Linked DNA regions of Homo sapiens. The protein of the gene in region 1 interacts with the protein of each later gene in a pairwise test. Each region holds a gene or a part of one and is shown in the gene's direction. Other genes may lie near its edges. The genes, in order: TNMD and CD33.

Region 1 (5,749 bases):
GTTCTTGCCACTTTTGTCACACTTCAGTATTCACCTATTTTAAAGATTGTGGTTCATTCACCTTACCATTTTATGCTGGGCTGCTAATGGAATAATTCACATTTAACCTCAGTAGGAAAGGCAAAAGCAAAGAAGGTGAACACTGCAATGGGATACAAATTCTCTGAAAACACCCTGCTAGACCAAAGTAAGGCAACCTAGGGTGCTGGTGAAATCACTGAATGGCCCTTTAAAACCTAATGGGAGATGGATGTTATTGCCTAAAATACAACGATCTGTAAGGCCCTTGAGGCTCTTTATTGTTCCCTGATATTTTGTCTATAATTACAGTATGGTTTTATTAGTGGGAGGAGAAGGGGGACCTCAGTTAAGGTCATATTGTGACAGCATATCCCCACTATAGCAAGAAAAAACAAACATTGGTTTGGTTTGGTTTAGTGCTTAGTTGCCAAATCTAAAGTGGAATTATGGCAATGGCAGAATGATCTTTCTTCTTCTTCTTCTTCTTCTTTGTATTTTTAGTAGAGACGGGGTTTCACCATAGCCAGGATGGTCTCAATCTCCTGACCTCATGATCCGCCCGCCTAGGCCTCTCAAAGTGCTGGGATTACAGGCATCAGCCACCGCGCCCAGCCATGGCAGAGTGATCTTTCTATAAACTATAAAAACCTCTTTCTTTCTTTCTTTCTTTCTTCTCTCTCTCCCTGTTCTTTTTCACTTTTCTCCCACCCAGCTCCCTCCATCTTGATTCTCACCAACCCATTTATCTTTTCCTTTACCTTTTTCTTTACCTTTTTCTTTATTTGGGGGCGGTGGGTGGGGAGGACTATTTTTCTTTCCCTTACCCAAGTCTTAGAGCTGTCATTGGCTCCCACTTTACTCTTTCATGCTACTGGTCTCCTCGGGGCCAGAGGAGTTACAGACCCTTGTTACTAGAATTTGCAAGAAAAAAAAGAACGTTCTCCCAAAGATGATGCTCTGCTCCCAAGGTCTACGGTAGTGACAAAGTTTGGAGACTTTTTTTAAAGTAAGCATAAGTTAGATGCATCTGAGGAATAGATCGACGTTCAGGATATTAGGAATGACTATAGAAGGCAAAGGTAAGATAAAAGGAAAATCAATAGGATTAAAAAGCTACTATACACAATAACATATGCTGATTACATACAGAAAATAATGTAAGCATTTGAGTAGGCCACTCAGCAATGAGAACCTGAAGTGATATAATAGGATTTATTTTTTTGAAAGATTAAGGCAAAGGAGGCGGGGCACGGTGGCTCACGCCTATAATCCCAGCCCTTTGGGAGGCCGAAGAGGGGGATCACTGGAGGTCAGGAGTTCGAGACCACTCTGGCCAACATGGTGAAAACCCATCTCTACTAAAACAAAACAAAACAAAACAAAATTAGCCGGGCATGGTGGCGTGTGCCTGTAATCCCAGCTACTGAAGAGGATGAGGTGGGAGGATCACTTGAACCCGGGAGGTGGAGGTTTCAGTAAGCCGAGTTTGCGCCACTGCACTCCAGCCTGGGTGACAGAGCGGGACTCAGTGTCAAAAAATAAATAAATAAACAAAAAATAAAGGCAAAGGCTCATAATGTCTCATTTTGGCCCTAATTTAGTCTTCAGTTAATTTCACCAAATATTTTAAATAACGCAAATTCATTTCATGATAGTAAGAACACTGTACCTTCAAGTAAATCTTGTTTTTTATATTCACGCCACAGATTTTTTTTTAATGAGACAAATTTGTGGTCCTGAATGACAAAAACCTTCTTCTGTAATTCCCTCCACACTGTATCCATGGCATGTGTATTTTAAACATGCAGAGCAGGTATATAAATAGCCCTGATTTTGCTAACAAAGCTAGTCAGCATACCAACCTCATTTTATACAATTCCTTTCAATGCATCTCAAGGTCGTTACAGACTCAAGGACAAAGGTGCTAAGACTTTAGAATTGTAAATGATTCCGGGAGAAATTAGTAAGAACTAGGTATACAACACAATTACCTCAATACTAGAAACTGAAGAGAAAGTGGCATCCTTCACAATATAAAAAAAGCTGCTTAAAGGAAAAACACTCTGTGAGATAAACTCTAAGCATTTACAATGAAAGGAATGCAATAGTAGGAAGGCCAGTGAAGTCATAAACTGGAGACTTGCCTTTAAAACATAAAAGGAAATCTTTTGTACTATAACTAGCTACCATCAACAGGCAAATCTTGTAAAACCAAAATATTAGATTACATTGTTATTGAATTGATCTCACCAGTTTGGATTATAGGAGTTTTGTCAGCTTCGGGTCAAATCCTGCTTGCCACCCAAGATGCAAACCTAAAATAAGGCAGGCTAATAAAATGTATTTATAAAAAAGAAAACAAATGTAAATCACTTAGGGTTCCAGAAGCTCAAGTTAAAACATACACAGACCCAGGGCACCCTGAAAATAACGAAGCCCCTTTCTGACTTTGAGTGAAATGGTAACAGAGAAGGCTCCTACTTTAGTAAGCAGTCTTGCTGTTAGACCCAGGAAGGAGGAAGGATCAGTTGTTAACTCCCCCAAGGGCACCCACTGAATGCAAGGCACAGAGCTAGTTCACCAGCAGCCCTAGGATTAAAATTGTTACACTCAAAATATATTGCTTTCCAGCATCCCATAATGTCTCACTTGTTCTACTAATTTCTCTGCCAATCCCTACCCTAAGCTACTTTCTTCTTTCAGAATGAAGAAATTACCACAACTTTCTTTGAACAGTCAGTGATTTGGGTCCCAGCAGAAAAGCCTATTGAAAACCGAGATTTTCTTAAAAATTCCAAAATTCTGGAGATTTGTGATAACGTGACCATGTATTGGATCAATCCCACTCTAATATCAGGTATGACATTCTTATCCTCATCCTCCTCCTATTTTCTAAGACAGTAACAGGTTAATGTTCCCAGCATTTAGAGGCTACATTTCTAGGAAAACAAATGATCGGTTTATATCTTCTTGGATGAGTCTATATATGCTGACTGCCAGTGAGGAGGGAATTTTTCACAGCCAAGTTATAAATCAGATAAATTAATGTTGACAGGCTTTTAAATATCCCAGCAAAGGTAACACCACCCTAATGTGACTAGTGATAGCAAAAAACTAATCTGTCTCTCTTTGCACATCTATATTCATTGCAGTCGGTATGCCAGACTATTGCTCAAACCACTGTGGGTCCAACCCAAGAATAGAGGAGAGAAGGGCAAAAACAATGCTCTGCTATCAAGAAGGATTCCCTATGTCAAATGGTGGCATTTTCCTTAGAAGATAGGACAATCACTGCAATACAAATTTCTTTGTTGCTGTTTTAGGAATTACTATAAAAATAGTTGAGGGCTTGATGTCCAGAGTAGAAGAGTCCAGCCCTCAACTTCCAGTCAGCCCATAGAGAAGGTAAAGGCCCCTGGATGTCTTAGTCTGTTTAGCTAACATGGAATTTGGCCTCCCTCATTCTGCACAGCATAGATTACTCTATTACCCAAGAGAGGTTATTCTCACCAATGTAAGCATCTGTGGGTACTCTTTAGAGATATTAAAAAGGTGACTAAATGCAGTGTGGTATCCTGGACTGGATGCTGGAACAGAAAAAAACATTAGTAGAAATACTAATGAAATCTGAATAAAGTCTGTAGTTTAGTTAATAACATTGTACCAATTCTAACTTCTGATTTTTGATCATTGTACCATGGTTATGTGAGGTAACATTAGGGGAAACCGGGTGAAGAATATGTGAACTCTGTACTATTTCTGCAACTCTTCCATAAATCTAAGATTATTTCTAAACAGAAAGTTTAAAAAAAATTTAAGACAAGAAACATAAGGGAAGTGGGAGGACAGAGGATGTCAAATCAATTCAGGCAACCAAGAAATATTTATTGAGCATCTACATGGGTAAAATCATCATTGTAGGAGATACAGAAGTCCCTTGTCCTCAGTTTTTAATTTAGTGTGCTATTAAGTCAAAGCAGTAAATGTTTGATGCCAAAGAAGCAAAGAAGTTTGTGTATGTAGAAATGATCAGGCTTGTTTTGGAAACTACTCTAAAATATCAGCTGAAGGAGCTTGGAAAAGTGGTCCATGCCTAAATGATGCCAGTTAGAAGACACAATGAAAATCTCTATCCCCAGCTGCTATTCTCCCAAGCACTTCTTTCAGGAACATTTGCAAAGCAGTTGCATCACAACTTTGCATTTATTATCTTAGTTTCTGAGTTACAAGACTTTGAGGAGGAGGGAGAAGATCTTCACTTTCCTGCCAACGAAAAAAAAGGGATTGAACAAAATGAACAGTGGGTGGTCCCTCAAGTGAAAGTAGAGAAGACCCGTCACGCCAGACAAGCAAGTGAGGAAGAACTTCCAATAAATGACTATGTGAGTTATGTTTATGTAAACTCTTGATAGAGGAGGAAAAAAGAGCCCTCACAAAACTTACTACCCCTCAGATCACAATCATTGGAAGGAGAACGATCATGGCTTTAACAAAAAAAAAAAAATGTTTAAGAAACTTGGAATCTCCAGGAGGCTCATTCAAAATCAATCTCGATCTCTGTAGATATATCTCCATGATCAGGCTAAGGAGCTTAATTTCTCACAAGCCCCCAACTCATACAGTCTTCTAGTTCTCCCCTGCTTGGTGAGAACTCTTGCTAGTGAACCTTCCTCTCCCACCCCCAACACTGGCTTCTTCTTCTTTCAGACTGAAAATGGAATAGAATTTGATCCCATGCTGGATGAGAGAGGTTATTGTTGTATTTACTGCCGTCGAGGCAACCGCTATTGCCGCCGCGTCTGTGAACCTTTACTAGGCTACTACCCATATCCATACTGCTACCAAGGAGGACGAGTCATCTGTCGTGTCATCATGCCTTGTAACTGGTGGGTGGCCCGCATGCTGGGGAGGGTCTAATAGGAGGTTTGAGCTCAAATGCTTAAACTGCTGGCAACATATAATAAATGCATGCTATTCAATGAATTTCTGCCTATGAGGCATCTGGCCCCTGGTAGCCAGCTCTCCAGAATTACTTGTAGGTAATTCCTCTCTTCATGTTCTAATAAACTTCTACATTATCACCAACAGCCTGATTGCTGCTGAACACACTGGGTAAGTGTTTGCTGAGAATATTCACAGCAACTGAAATGGAGCAGACCCGTCAAACATAGATGACTATGCTGAGGCTCAGAAAACAATGCCCCAAAATGAAAGCCTCAGAAGCAAAAGTTTTTCTCTGACCTTCTCCTACCTGCCAGTCTCTCAGTCCCATTCTCCCCCGAGGCTAGCCATAAAAGCTAGAATCCCTCTTCCTCAAGGCGTGTCATATAAATCAAAACCCCTTTTTTCCAAAGCCAGCCTTAAACCTAAAAATATCACTCTGATTTTTCCTCTGCTTTTCTGTGTAAAAGCTGGCCATAAGGAAATTATCTGACCTACCTTGTTTGACTGTAGGTCATAAGACTCCCTTTCCAGAGAGGATCCAACACAACAGGTTTGGAAGTAGAAAAGGGCAAAGCATAATGATACCTAAATATCATATTTTACTCTGCTGTATTAAGACAGTGGAAATAAGGAGCTGATGATAAAATGTCTCCATAACTGATGCATTAAAAACATATCCTTTTGTGCATAGCCCCAGTGTTTAATTATATGAAAGATATATTGTGAACTTCCTTAAGTATCAATTAAGCTGCTGGACAGGCAGTGAGTCATAGCAGGCCAACAC
Region 2 (5,736 bases), on another chromosome or scaffold:
AAGACCCAGGGTGGAGAGGAACCTGAGTCCTAGGAGAGATGATGTTTTGTGCACCAGAGAGAGAGGGTGGGACAAGAGGTGTCAGGTGCACTGTGTACTTCATCTCATGGTCGTGGTCAATATTGATGTCTATGATGGGTGGGAAGATCTAGGAGCTAAACCCCATTTTGGAGGTGAAGTCACCCCTCTCTACATGCTGGAGAGGAGGATACACATACCTGTTTATCTAGATTAGAATTCACCCCAAATCTTTTTTGTCTGCAGGGAAACAAGAGACCAGAGCAGGAGTGGTTCATGGGGCCATTGGAGGAGCTGGTGTTACAGCCCTGCTCGCTCTTTGTCTCTGCCTCATCTTCTTCATGTGAGCATTTTCTCTGGGTCAGGCATGGGCCAGAGGTGAAGAGGATGGACCTGGTGTAGAAGGGTCCTGGAGGGGCTGTGAGGGCTGGAGAAAGGGCAGGGGGTGTGATGATGTACAGAATCCAGCCTGTGGCCACTGGGATAGGCGTGGGTCTATTCCAGGGCCCTGATCTCAGATGTCCAAGGAGTGGGAGGTAGAGGGAGACCTTGTGACTAAGTCTTGTTTGAGGGCTCCTGGATTAATCCCACCCTTTACCTGCCAAAGTCCCTCATTCCAGGCTCATAACAATGGCCCCACAGCCTGAGAAAACCAGGCTCAAAGACCCTGGTGTCTCCCATCAGAGTGAAGACCCACAGGAGGAAAGCAGCCAGGACAGCAGTGGGCAGGAATGACACCCACCCTACCACAGGGTCAGCCTCCCCGGTGAGTGATGGGGCATCCTGGCATCCAGTCTGTCCTGCAGACACCTCCTCCCAATGTGGCCCACCGTCATGCCCCATTCAGCATTTCCAGAACTGAGCTTATTGTCTTTCCTCCTGTTTAACAGTGTAGGTTTTAATATTTTTCAGGTACGTTGAGGCCAACAGATCAGGAGATGATGGCCATTGAAAAGATAGTTTCTTGGCCGGGCACAGTGTTTCACACCTGCAATCCCAGCACCTTTGGAGGCCAAGGCGGGCGGATCACGAGGTCAGGAGATTGAGACTATCCTGGCTAACATGGTGAAACCCCGTCTCTACTAAAAATACAAAAAATTAGCCAGATGTGGTGGCTGGCGCCTGTAGTCCCAGCTACTTGGGAGGCTGAGGCAGGAGAATGGTATGAACCCGGGAGGCAGAGCTTGTAGTGAGCCGACATAGCACCACTGCACTCCAGCCTGGGTGACAGAGAGAGACTCTGTCCCAAAAAGAAAAAAAAAATAGTTTCTTATTCACCGTTCCCGAGAGGGCACACCACACCATGCAAGGCCATATGGAGAAGCACCAGGGTCAGTCAGGAAGCAGAGGGAGCAAGGAGAAAATGGGACAAGAGCCTTCACTGTGGCTTTCATGGAAAAGAATGGGCAAGACAGGGTAAGCAAGCTAGGCAGGTTTAGGATTGGCTACTTAGAACAATTTCAGCAGACTCTGGGGTATAGGAGTTGTCTCTAGTTGTCTGGTACATGGCCCTGGGTTTATTAAGGAGGATTGTGGTCTGGAGTGTAAGAGCTCAATAAAGGATCCAGCTGGTAGTGTGGGCTTTAGATTGACTGGTTTGCACATGAAAGGTGCACTTGTATGCAAGTCCTTTATTAGCTCTAGAAATCTACTATCCTTGGGAAAGGCAGTCTCTCAAGGGTCAGTAATGCCCCAGATGTCAAAACATCAGAAACACTTGGTTGACACACCCCTAAACATACTTCTCCTGATGGGTTCTCCATCTCGCTGATGGCACTCTTGTCCCCATTACCCAACCAGAGACATGGCCCCCTCCTGTCCCAGTCCTCCATCTCTTCCTGTGCCAGTATGCTACGATGCATGTCTGAGCTTCCTCTGAACACGGCTTAACACAACCACTCCTGAGCCGAGAGCCCCTCTTACTCCTTATTCTGCTGCAGCCTCACCTCCCATTTCTCCTCTCCAGAACATTAGCATCACCTCCCTAAAAGGTCATTGTCCCATCATTCCCAAGTTTGAAATGCACTGCTTCTCTACACTCCTGAAAGATTGGCATTCCAACAACTTGGTCTGGCATTTGGAGCAGGAAAACCAGAGTCCCCTTCAGTGCTATGCTCCCCCAACATTAGCCACTCAATCACCTCAAGCAGGGCAAGCTTTCTCATCTCAGAATCATTGCTGGGCTGTCCCCTCCTCCTCATATGCCTAATAGCTACCTGCCCAACTCCAGTGCATCCTTCAAGCTCTGATTTTTTTTTTAATTTATTTAACTCTGACTAAAGTGAACACCACAGTAAAGTTTTTGAACACAGGGTCAACCAGCACCCATTCATTCTGAAATATCTATATAATCCCATTTGCCAATTGCTCTAGGTCCTTGTGCCATTCTGTATTTTTATAAACACACAGTTTACAAATATAAAATATTCCTCCTATCGGGGGCTTAACATTTATTGGGGAAAGGGATGAAAATAATGAACAAATAAGCAGTGCAAATATACATGAAATAGGCATGAAATAAGTGCTATGGCAGGAAATGAAATGGGAGAACGGATTGGACAGTCCTGGGGGCCAAAGAATGGCCTTTGGGCAAACACCTGCAGAAAGAAAGTGAGTACAGTATGAGCAGTAGAGAATCATCAAGGAAGCAGCAAGTACCATGGCTCTGAGGCCGGAACACATCTGATGTTTTAGAGAAACAAAGTAGGACAGTGTGGATAAGGCAGAGTTACGTGTTGGGGGTGGAGTGTGGACTGAACAATGGTAGGTAGGAAATGAGGTTGAAGAGACATAGGAGCTGCAAATATTGCAGGATCCTAAGTCCATCATAGTTATTGATGCGTTTAGAGCAGAAGAGTGACATGAACTGACACTCATTTTAGTGGGAGTCACTCTGGCTGCTCTGTGAGAAACTCTAGTATGTAGTATAGAAGAGAAGATACCAGAATAGAAGATACACAGATAATCAAGCCAAGAGATGACTGACTCAGACTTAGTCCCAAGTAAGAATAATGAATCTGATGTGGAGAAATTGGGTTCCGGATACATCTTGAAGGTGGAGTCAACAGTATTTGCAAGTGGAGTGATGGAGTGCATGCAAGGCATGAGCAAAGATAGCTCACGGGCTCTGCTCGATAAGTGTCTCAGATGTCATAGGTGGGTCCACAGATATCATAGATGTCATGGATGTCCAAGAAGACCCCATAGATGTCATAGATGTCTATAGATGCCAATGATGATGTTCATGTGGTTAACTCAGAATTCAAACTTAAAAAATCAAATTGCCAATGATTAAAATTGCCATCCTTGAAGGAGAAGTCTATTTTCAAGTGTATATCAAACATTATTTTGGTTACCGTAAGTTTGAGGTGCCTCTGAGACATCCATGTGGAGATGACAAGTAGCAGGCAAGTGTCTGGAGCTCAGAAGAGGGCTCCACGTGGGAGACACAGAGGTTGGGAGCTTCCCTATCAACATCCAATAATCGATGAATCTACAAAGAAGAGAAGGGGTCCACAGACACAGCCCTGGAACCCTCCAGCATTTAATGTTAGGGAGATGAGGTGTAAATGGTGAGAAAGCTGAGAATGAATAGGAGCCAATGACCAGGAAATTGCAGGCTGTAGTGTTGGTGGCCAAGGGAAGATGGGGCTTCATGGAGGAGAGGTTGGTCATTTGTTTCAAATGCTGGTAAGTCTGGTAAGATGGAATCTGAGAAATGGCTATTTGAATGTAGCTAAGTGGTATGACAGCAAAGCAGATCTGATTTTTCTGCTGGAGGAAGATCTCTTGACTAGAGAGAGTTCAAGAGAGAATGGGAGGAGAAGAGGCAGAAACTGTGAGTTGAAGGACTCTTTTGAGAAACACTGCCCCAAATCTAGAACCAAGAAATGGGCCTGCACCAGCAAATGGTTGTACCCTGTAGACTTGCCATTTCTCCAGCATCTGCTCCTGTGTCTCTTATGATACCATGTTCCCTGTTTGTGTAGGGCTTTGCACCACTTGAACTAACTGCATTCCCATAGCTTCCCCTACCACACCATGAGCTCCACAAGGAAAAGCCTGGGTTTTATTAGACCTCCATCATTCTACTCTCTCCTGTTCATCTGCACACTGTCACAATTTGCAATTACCAGTCTGTTTCTGTCTTCATCCCCTGCAGTACTGGAAATCACAGGGCCCCTGCTCTGCTCTGCTCCCTCCTGAGGATCCAGTGCCCAGCACATAGGAGGTCCCAGAGACCTGGGACCGAGTTCAGGGTCAACAGATGTGTGACTTTGGAAATTACCTAAGCTCTCTGAGACCTAGTTTCCTGGTCTGTAAAATGGATTAAAATAATAGATGCCAAAGATGATGTCAGTGTAGCTGCCCAGAATTTTTCCACATTAGTCTCTGTGAGTATTCAAGAGAATTGCGAATCAATCAATACGTGCTACATGTGTTAGATAATGAATAAGTAGAGCCTTAATTAATTAACATTTGATGAAAGAATGAAAGAGTGAATAAATGTTCTGTCAGAGTCAAATTTACTTCATTGACCCTCTTTGCCTTCTCCTGGTCCCCCTCCTCACTGCCCTGCTCTAACCCCCTTCTTTCCTCTCCATAAGAAACACCAGAAGAAGTCCAAGTTACATGGCCCCACTGAAACCTCAAGCTGTTCAGGTGCCGCCCCTACTGTGGAGATGGATGAGGAGCTGCATTATGCTTCCCTCAACTTTCATGGGATGAATCCTTCCAAGGACACCTCCACCGAATACTCAGAGGTCAGGACCCAGTGAGGAACCCACAAGAGCATCAGGCTCAGCTAGAAGATCCACATCCTCTACAGGTCGGGGACCAAAGGCTGATTCTTGGAGATTTAACACCCCACAGGCAATGGGTTTATAGACATTATGTGAGTTTCCTGCTATATTAACATCATCTTAGACTTTGCAAGCAGAGAGTCGTGGAATCAAATCTGTGCTCTTTCATTTGCTAAGTGTATGATGTCACACAAGCTCCTTAACCTTCCATGTCTCCATTTTCTTCTCTGTGAAGTAGGTATAAGAAGTCCTATCTCATAGGGATGCTGTGAGCATTAAATAAAGGTACACATGGAAAACACCAGTCCTGGTGCAGTGAGAGTTCGGTGCATACTGGTTCCTTCCCCCTTGAACAGAAGTCATTAGTGATATTTGATCTCTGGAACTATATCAGCAACATGTCCATCTCACTTGCTGCTCAAAACCCCACCATATATGTCTTCCCTGACTTACCCTCCAACATCATCTCTCTCCACTCCTGAATCTTCTCTTTTCATCTCACCTGTCCCCTACTCGGATTTCTGCTTTCTTTATGTCCTGCTACAGGGAAAATCACATATTAGCATTTGGGGAATTTTCTAAAACTCAGAGCTGACCATAGTGAAAATAGTTCCCTAGATCCCCAACCCACAGGAATAATTTGAAGCTTCTCAATGTGACATTCTAAGTCAGAGATGGTCAACCAGTATTAGCAAAGGGCCAGATAGTAAACATGTTCAGTTTTGCAAGCAATGTGGTCTCTATTGCAACTATTTAATTCCGCCATTGTAGCAACAAAGCAGCCACAGACAATCTGAAAATGAATTATATGGCCATGTTCCGACAAAATGCTATTTATCAGAACAGGCAGCCCACGGGCTGTGGTGTGCTGACCTCTATTCTATGTTGCTCTGAATCTCGCTCAGTCTACTCTTCC

Evidence for each region.
Region 2: the proteins of TNMD (region 1) and CD33 interact in binary tests that used the Homo sapiens proteins (3 or more experiments, as listed by UniProt).

The regions. Positions count from the first base shown.
Region 1 is NC_000023.11:100,594,780-100,600,528, forward strand, and holds the end of TNMD (tenomodulin), read left to right. Parts: intron 1-2,724; coding exon 2,725-2,878; intron 2,879-4,236; coding exon 4,237-4,403; intron 4,404-4,728; coding exon 4,729-4,938; 3' UTR 4,939-5,106; downstream 5,107-5,749. UniProt on the Homo sapiens protein: May be an angiogenesis inhibitor.
Region 2 is NC_000019.10:51,234,893-51,240,628, forward strand, and holds the end of CD33 (myeloid cell surface antigen CD33 isoform 1 precursor), read left to right. Parts: intron 1-264; coding exon 265-361; intron 362-625; coding exon of another isoform or gene 626-702; coding exon 703-784; intron 785-930; coding exon of another isoform or gene 931-939; exon of another isoform or gene 940-1,074; intron 1,075-4,625; coding exon 4,626-4,796; 3' UTR 4,797-5,124; downstream 5,125-5,736. UniProt on the Homo sapiens protein: Sialic-acid-binding immunoglobulin-like lectin (Siglec) that plays a role in mediating cell-cell interactions and in maintaining immune cells in a resting state.